Homo sapiens: one gene and its partner. The protein of the gene in region 2 purifies or fractionates together with the protein of the main gene of each other region. This does not show direct contact. Each region holds a gene or a part of one and is shown on either strand. Other genes may lie near its edges. The genes, in order: XAF1 and NAIP.

Region 1 (3,821 bases), on a different chromosome or scaffold from region 2:
CCAGTGGGGCTTATAGTTTTTCTGAGGTCGTGGGAGACAATTAACAAGGGCCATAATAAGTAAGTAAATTAGATAATATGTTAGAAGTTGGCAAATGCTATGGAAAAAATAATAGAAGAAGGTAAGGGGTTGGTAAATATGTGATGGAGAGGGAGTTGCAATTTTAAATAGGTTGTTGTGGTACATCTCCTTGAGAAGGTGCCATCTGGGCAAAGACTTGAGAGAAGTGAGAGAGTTAGCTCCTGGAGTAGGGTGGGGAAGGTGAGGAGGTAGCTTCCAGCCAGAGGCAGTAGCCAGTGAAAAGGCCCTAAGGCATGGTATGCTCAAGAAACAATCAGGAGGCCAGTGAGCTGAACAGGAGTAGTACATGAGATCAAAGAGGTGATGAGATAAGAAGGGAGGCAAAGATGACATAGATCTCTAAAGCCACTGTAGTTTTGAGTTTGCATAAAATGGGGCAAGAATCAGTACAGAGATCTGAACAGAGGAGCCAAACAATCTGACTTGTATTTTTAAGGGATCACGTTGACCTCTGTGATGAGAATAGACTGTAGGGGGCAAGGTGAGAAGTAGGAAGACCGTTTAGGAGACTGCTGCAGCATCTGGGCTAGAGAAGATGATGGTTCATACCAGGGTAGCAATGCGGAGGGAAAGAGAAGTCGAGAGTGAACCTGAGATTTTGGCCTGAACAACTGGAAAGATAGAGTTGCCATCAACTGAGATGGGCCAAGCTGTGGCAGAGAGGATTCCATTTCAGATGTGTTACATTTAAGATGTCTATCAAGCATTCAAGTGAAGATGCAGTAAATAGTAATATACAAATCTAGAGTTTGGGGAGAAAAACCCAGACTGAGATATAAATTTGGAAGTGTCTGACTACATATGGCTTTTTAAAAAATTTTTAAATTTTTATTTATTTATCTATTTTTTGAGATGGAGTCTCGCTCTGTCGCCCAGGCTGCAGTGTAGTGGCGTGATCTCGGCTCACTGCAAGCTCCGCCTCCTGGGTTCACGCCATTCTCCTGCCTCAGCCTCCCGAGTAGCTGGGACTATAGTCACCCACCACCACACCCGGCTAAGTTTTTGTATTTTTAGTAGAGACGAGAGTTCACTGTGTTAGCCAGGTTGGTCTCGATCTCCTGACCTTGTGATCCTCCCACCTCGGCCTCCCAAAGTGCTGGGATTACAGGCATGAGCCACCATACCCGGCCTTACATATGGCATTTTTAAAAATCAGGAGGTAGGATGAAATAATGAAGGCAGTGAATATAGGTAGAGAAGAGACCAGAGACTAAGCCCTGGGGCCCCCCAAAATTAAGAGGCTGGGGAGGTAGAGAATGAGAGACCACCAATGTCCTTGAAAACCAGGAAAGTGTGGTACCCTGGAAGCCGAGAAAGTCCACTGAGGAAGAGGGAGTGATGAGCAGTAAATGCTTCCCATAAATTGAGAACTGAGAACTGAGCATTGGATTTAGCAATGCAGAGGTCATTGATTTTGACAAGAGCAGATTTGGTTAAAATGGAGAGCCAGACTGGAGTGGGAATAAGAATGAGAGAAGAAAAGATGGAGGCAGTTACTTATAGACAACTAGCTCAAATGTTTTTCTACGGAGGGGAACAAAGAAACAAGATGGTAGCTTATAGGAAATGGGATCAGAAGTATTTCATGTTTTTCTGGCTTTGGGTCATATTAATAAAAAGTTAAAGACTGAAAACCACAAAACCACCTAGTATACATGATTTCAATCCTTAATTTTCAAAATTAAAAAAAAATTCTTTTCGTGCAAGGCCATTGATATATAAATATTCAATAGTGGTACCCCTTTAAAAAGTTATTGTAAGAAATGTTAGGACAACCTAGAGATGTGAGACTTTGTTGTTACCTGCGTGTACAGCTCATTTAACCTCTCTCTGTTGCAGGACAGAGAGGGGAGAATTGCTGGAGCAGTGTAGCAAAAAACTTGTGTGACCTTGTGTAGGCAAAAAGAGAGGGTATATTATACCAGTAGGAGGGGATAGGCTTTAGAGAGGCACATAGGAAGCTCCTCTATGGTTAAGAGGTGGGAAGGCAAAGTAAGTGAGTGTGGATGCTGCCAAGGAGATAGATCTGGTGTTGGCTGGTTGTGGATGTCTTCTTTTCCTGAACAAGGAGATAAACCATTATCCCCATTTTCCTCAAAAGAAGAAAGAAGCTCAGAGAGGTTACACAGCCAGTAAGGGGCACAGCAGAACTAAAATTCAGAGTTTCTGAGCACAAATCCAGTTCCATGTGTATTGGAGCTCCCCACTTCCCTGTAGCCTTCAAATAAGTGTGTAGGTGCCCTGGTTGCCAGGCTGGACATTTGAAGGGAAGTAGTCAGCTTTACTCTTGTTTTGGTGCTCACCAAGTATTTTCTCATTCAAACAGAACACATGGACCACTTATAGGATCGAATAAACATCAGTACTAAGGAAAACAAGTCAGTAGGTGATTTCCACGTACAGCCAAGGCTGAGAATCCCGTGGCTGGGGCAGCGCATCTCAGACTTGAAATGCCTGGGAAATCATGTGACCCTGCATATTCTGATTTAGCATTTCTAGGGGGAGGGCCTGAGATTCTGCATTTCTAACAGGATTCCAGGTGATGCTCATGCAGCTGGTCCACAGACTGCACTTCAAAAAGCAAAGAGCTGAAAGGTGGAAACAATCCGAATGTTTACCAACAAGTAGAGAAACAAAATGTGGGATGACCGTAAAAAGGCCATTAACTTTGGGAGGCCGAGGAAGGCGGATAACCTGCGGTCAGGAGTTTGAGACTGGCCTGGCCAACATGGTAAAACCCCGTCTCTACTAAAAAAAAATACAAAAATTAGCCGGGCGTGGTGGCAGGCACCTGTAGCCCCAGCTACTCCGGAGGCTGAGGCAGGAGAATCGCTTGAACCCGGGAGGCAGAGGTTGCAGTGAGCCGAGATCACGCCACTGCACTCCAGCCTGGGCAACAGAGTGAGACCCTGTCTCAAAAAAATAAAAGAAAAGAAAAGGCCATTAAAAGGAATGAAATGCTGACACATGCCACAACTACAACACGGGCAAACCTTGAAAATGTTACGGTAAGTGAAAGAAGATGGTTACATAAGACCACATATTATATGAGTCTACTGATGTGAAGTGTCCAGAATAGACAAATCCATAGAGATAGAAAGCAGATTAGTGGTTGCCAGGAACTGGGAAGATGAGGGAATGTACAGTACCTGCTAATGGGTATAGGATTTCTTTTTGGAATGATGAAAATATTCTAGAACCAGATTGCACAACATTGTGAATGTACCAAATGTCTCTATAGTGATGGCAAATTTTACATTATACGTGGTTTACCACAATAGTAAAAAGAAAAAGAAAAGAGCGAAAAGCTGGATCGTCTCTATGGTTTCTTTAGTTTTGATATTCTGTAGTTTTAAGCACTGAAGTGTTAAGAAAGGTAAACAACTTTCTGCCCAAGGAGAAGGAGAAGAGTTCTTTGGAGAGAAGCCTTGGTAAGTTTCCCAAAGGGGAAATGCTCCATTCTGTGCAAAAGAAGGGAGCAACTTGGCACAGCAATGCACTAAACGGCGCTTAGGGGCTATGGAGGGAAGAACCTGTGAGTGTTCCCAGGCAAAATCAGTCAGTCAGTCAATCACGTAACTGCGCCTCTACAGAGTCCTCTTTTTGCACCAAGCTCTGATGTCAGGAAAATGGAAAAAGTCATGCAGTTTTGCAGGAAGCTCACAGTCTAATAGAGAAGACTCCCACATGGGACCGAAAACAGTAAGACAGGCCCTACTGAGGACCAAATTGCAATGTCC
Region 2 (3,821 bases):
ACACCAGGACCAGCTGAAGTAACGTGCAATTAGAAAACCTACGTTTTAGCCTTGCCATGACATTTCGGTAGAAACATAGGCATGTTTCTTAAAGTCTCTGAGCCTCCATGAACTCAGCTGTGAAATGGGAGAGAAAGGGGTAAATTCATTGGATAAGAATTAGTACTCACTCTATGCCTAGCATAAAGTAGGTACAGTACTCAGTAAATGATCGTTGTTATTGTTAGAACTCTGATTTATATATCATAACCCCTATGGCGGGGCTAGGACAAACAAACAAAACCCTCCAATACTGCAGCAATGAGAAGAATCAAAGAAAGATCATGTAAGAGCAGTAGAAGGAGGGTGGGTGAGGAGACTGGGATCAGGATGACCGCATGAGTTATTTAATCTTTTCAGGACCTTAAGAATACAGCCAGTATTTTCTAAGGTCCAAGTTTAAGGAGACGTAACTTTCTTATTTTATATATATTTGACAAATTAACACAGGCTGTACTAAATAGAAAATGAAGCAAAAATAAAAATATTGATGTTGAATTTTAATAAACTAGACCTTATACCTAATATAACACATTTAACCAGTGAAGAAAGTTTAGCAAAATATTGCAAAAGCAATTGAAAAATAAAACCTAAACTTAAAACGCCAGAGAAACACTTCAGAGAATAATTTCAAGGTACCTGTAAAGACAAAGCCAGCCTCTGAGAGCACACAAGGGGATATCCCTTGGACATAAAATGGCCAGTTCCTGAAGGACGCAAGTCTAGCCTCCTCTTCTTGGTACCTCATTTTACCTCCTCTCAGCCTGCTCTTCAGATTCTTCACCCTTATGTCGTACTTGGCAATGTTACCAACATCCTTGTTCAAAAGGAACCCACAATCTGGATGAAACCTCTTGTGGTCTTCTATGGGGAGTCTCGTGAGGCCGGCACCAAAGAGGATTAGGCTACAGCAGAAGCACTGAATCCCAGATTTTACCCCAGTGAAGTAAAACCCAGCGGCCGCCATCTCCTGTGGTATCCATGAGCTGTACGGCTCATAAGTCACAAAAGTCTTTAACCTTTTTGCTTCACTGCGCATTTGAGAGTTGTAGCCTTTCTGCATTTTTGCTCGCTCCTTCTGCTCCTCTTCTTCTAGTTCCTTTGCCAACTGAACTGCATCTAGGCCCAGAAGAGCAGACAGCTCTGGCAGCAAATTGTGATCAAACTGGGAGATCCTCTCGTCAGAGGCTTTCTGCTGGGTGGCCATTTTCTGAAAAGGAAAATAAAGCAGGTTGATCCCTTATAGTAAGATTTTTCTTAGAAGAGCATTTCCCACTGTTTCCGAAGAAACCAGGAATTAAAGGAATGCCTGGAATTTCAACACAAAAGATAAATTGTTGGAAAATTATGAAACATCAGTATTCATCTACTTAATCAACAAATATTTACTAAGCACCTACTATATATCAGGTACAGTGCTAGACATTGGGGATCTAGCAACCAACAAGACAGACACCCATCTGCCTCCATTCATGAAGCTTTCCAGATATCAGTTATGGACACAATGTGGTAACATGAGCATATACTGAACATTTATATTAAAGAAAAACATAGACAAAATTGTATAGCCTGGCAGCAACAATTTGATCGAATTACTCAGTTTTAAAAAATCATTATTTTGTGTTCATGTTTTAAGTCTCGGTGCTCTGGCCGGGCGCGGTGGCTCACGCCTGTAATCCCAGCACTTTGGGAGGCCGAGGCAGGTGGATCACGAGGTCAGGAGATGGAGAACATCCTGGCTAACAAGGTGAAACCCCATCTCTACTAAAACTACAAAAAAAATTAGCCGGGCGTGGTGGCGGGCGCCTGTAGTCCCAGCTACTCGGGAGGCTGAGGCAGGAGAATGGCGTGAACCCAGGAGGTGGAGCTTGCAGCGAGCCGAGATCGCGCCACGGTACTCCAGCCTGGGTGACAGAGCAAGACTCCGTCTTAAAAAAAAAAAAAAAAAAAAGAAGCTCAGTAACAGGCCAATGACTGTTTTTCAAAGGACATATACCTGCCAGAAGCCTCGGGTAACTTTCTAGTGTCAAATCCCCATGACCATCCCTGAGGGGCAGTCACGGGCTTTGGTAAGAAGCTCCATCAGCGTGAGTCGGTTGCTGACATTGCTAACATCATTTGAACACTGAGGTGCTATGGCCCCAAAGTAATCTCTTCGAAGTTCCCAAAAAGTCTCCCATTTGTTCATTTTTCAAAGCCCCATGTAAATTAGCTCCCCATTCCCTCTTAACTTCGAGAATAAGGGTTGATAAAATTCCCAAACATGGTATGTGATTTCTCCAGGAACCAAGAAATTGAACTAATTTTCGTGCCTTTTTCCTCTGTCTTGTAGCTAGCAACTTAATTTTGGTTGTTTGGGAATGTTTCTAGTGGCTCTAGCCCAAGTAATTCCTCCTTTTTTTTTTTTTTTAGACAGTCTCACTCTGTCACCCAGGCTGGAGTGCAGTGGCGTGGCCTCGGCTCACTGCAACCTCCGCCTCCTGGGTTCAAGCAATTCTCCTGCCTCAGCCTCCTGAGTAGCTGGGATTACAGGCACGTGCCACCAATTGCGGCTAATTTCTGTATTTTTAGTAGACACAAGGTTTTGCCATGTTGGCCAGCTTGGTCTCCAACTCCTGACCTCAAGTGATCCGCCTGCCTTGGCTTCCCACTCTTGTCCTTGTCGCCCAGGCTGAAGTGCAGTGGCGCAATCTCAGCTCCCACACCGGGATTACAGACGTGAGCCACCACACCCAGCCTAGCCCAAGTAATTTCTAAGAATTTTACCATTTATTCTAAGCCTTGCATTTTAGCCAGTTAATCATCCCTCCCTGGTGGTTATATGATTAACAAGCACTTCCAATTCAGTCTTAGCTGGATATTTGGATTGAGAGATTAACATTATTATCATCAATATAATAAGACATAGTATTAGCTGGGCGCAGTGGCTCATGCCTGTAATCCCAGCACTTTGGGAGGCTGAGGCGGGCAGATCACCTGAGGTCAGGAGTTCAAGACCAGCCTGGCCCACATGGTGAAACCCCATCTCTACAAAAATAAAAAAAATTAGCCGGGCATGATGGTGGGTGCCTGTAATCCCAGCTACTCAGGAGGCTGAGGCGGGAGAATCAGTTGAACCTGGGAGGCAGAGGTTGCAGTGAGCCAAGATCTCGCCATTGCACTCCAGCCTGGGTGACAGAGTGAGACTCCATCTCAAACAAACAAAAAAAAGATATAGTATTTTCCAGTGCAATCAAATCTAAGTTGTTCCTCATTAGGTTGTAGCAATAAGCAAGATAATTTAAATGTCCTGTGGGAGCAGCTTAAATGTGCATTGGTGGCCTTTCCACACAAATGCAAATTGATTATGATTTTCTCCTGAAATAGGAATCAAAAAGAAAGTAAGTGGCCAAGTGTGGAGGCTCACACCTGTAATCCCAGCATTTTGGGAGGCCAAGGTGGGAGGATTGTTTGTGGCTAGGAGTTTGAGGCCAGTTTAGGCAACTTAGTGAGATCCTTGTCTCTACAAAAAATTTTAAAAATTAGCCAGATGTGTTGGCACATGCCTGTAGTCCCAGCTACTCGGGGAGCAGAGGCAGAAGGATCACTTGAGCCCAAGAATTCAAGGTTACAGTGAGCCACAATTATGCCACTCACTGTACATTTCATGAAATCTCTTTCCTCAACAGCATCCCCATTCAGATGTCACATCCATTCCGATAATATATCAGGGAGAGATGATAACAATTATGCAATTATATTGCATAATTGAATTATATTGAAATATAATCCATCGGGAGCAG

Evidence for each region.
Region 1: the proteins of NAIP (region 2) and XAF1 purify together in Homo sapiens (affinity purification with western blotting, with the first as the bait; one study listed by BioGRID). This does not show direct contact.

What each region holds. Positions count from the first base shown.
Region 1 is NC_000017.11:6,762,522-6,766,342, reverse strand, and holds part of XAF1 (XIAP-associated factor 1), read right to left. Parts: intron 1-3,821. UniProt on the Homo sapiens protein: Seems to function as a negative regulator of members of the IAP (inhibitor of apoptosis protein) family. Inhibits anti-caspase activity of BIRC4. Induces cleavage and inactivation of BIRC4 independent of caspase activation.
Region 2 is NC_000005.10:71,011,670-71,015,490, forward strand, and holds part of NAIP (baculoviral IAP repeat-containing protein 1), read right to left. Parts: intron 1,250-3,821; 5' UTR 1,247-1,249; coding exon 679-1,246; intron 1-678. UniProt on the Homo sapiens protein: Anti-apoptotic protein which acts by inhibiting the activities of CASP3, CASP7 and CASP9. Can inhibit the autocleavage of pro-CASP9 and cleavage of pro-CASP3 by CASP9.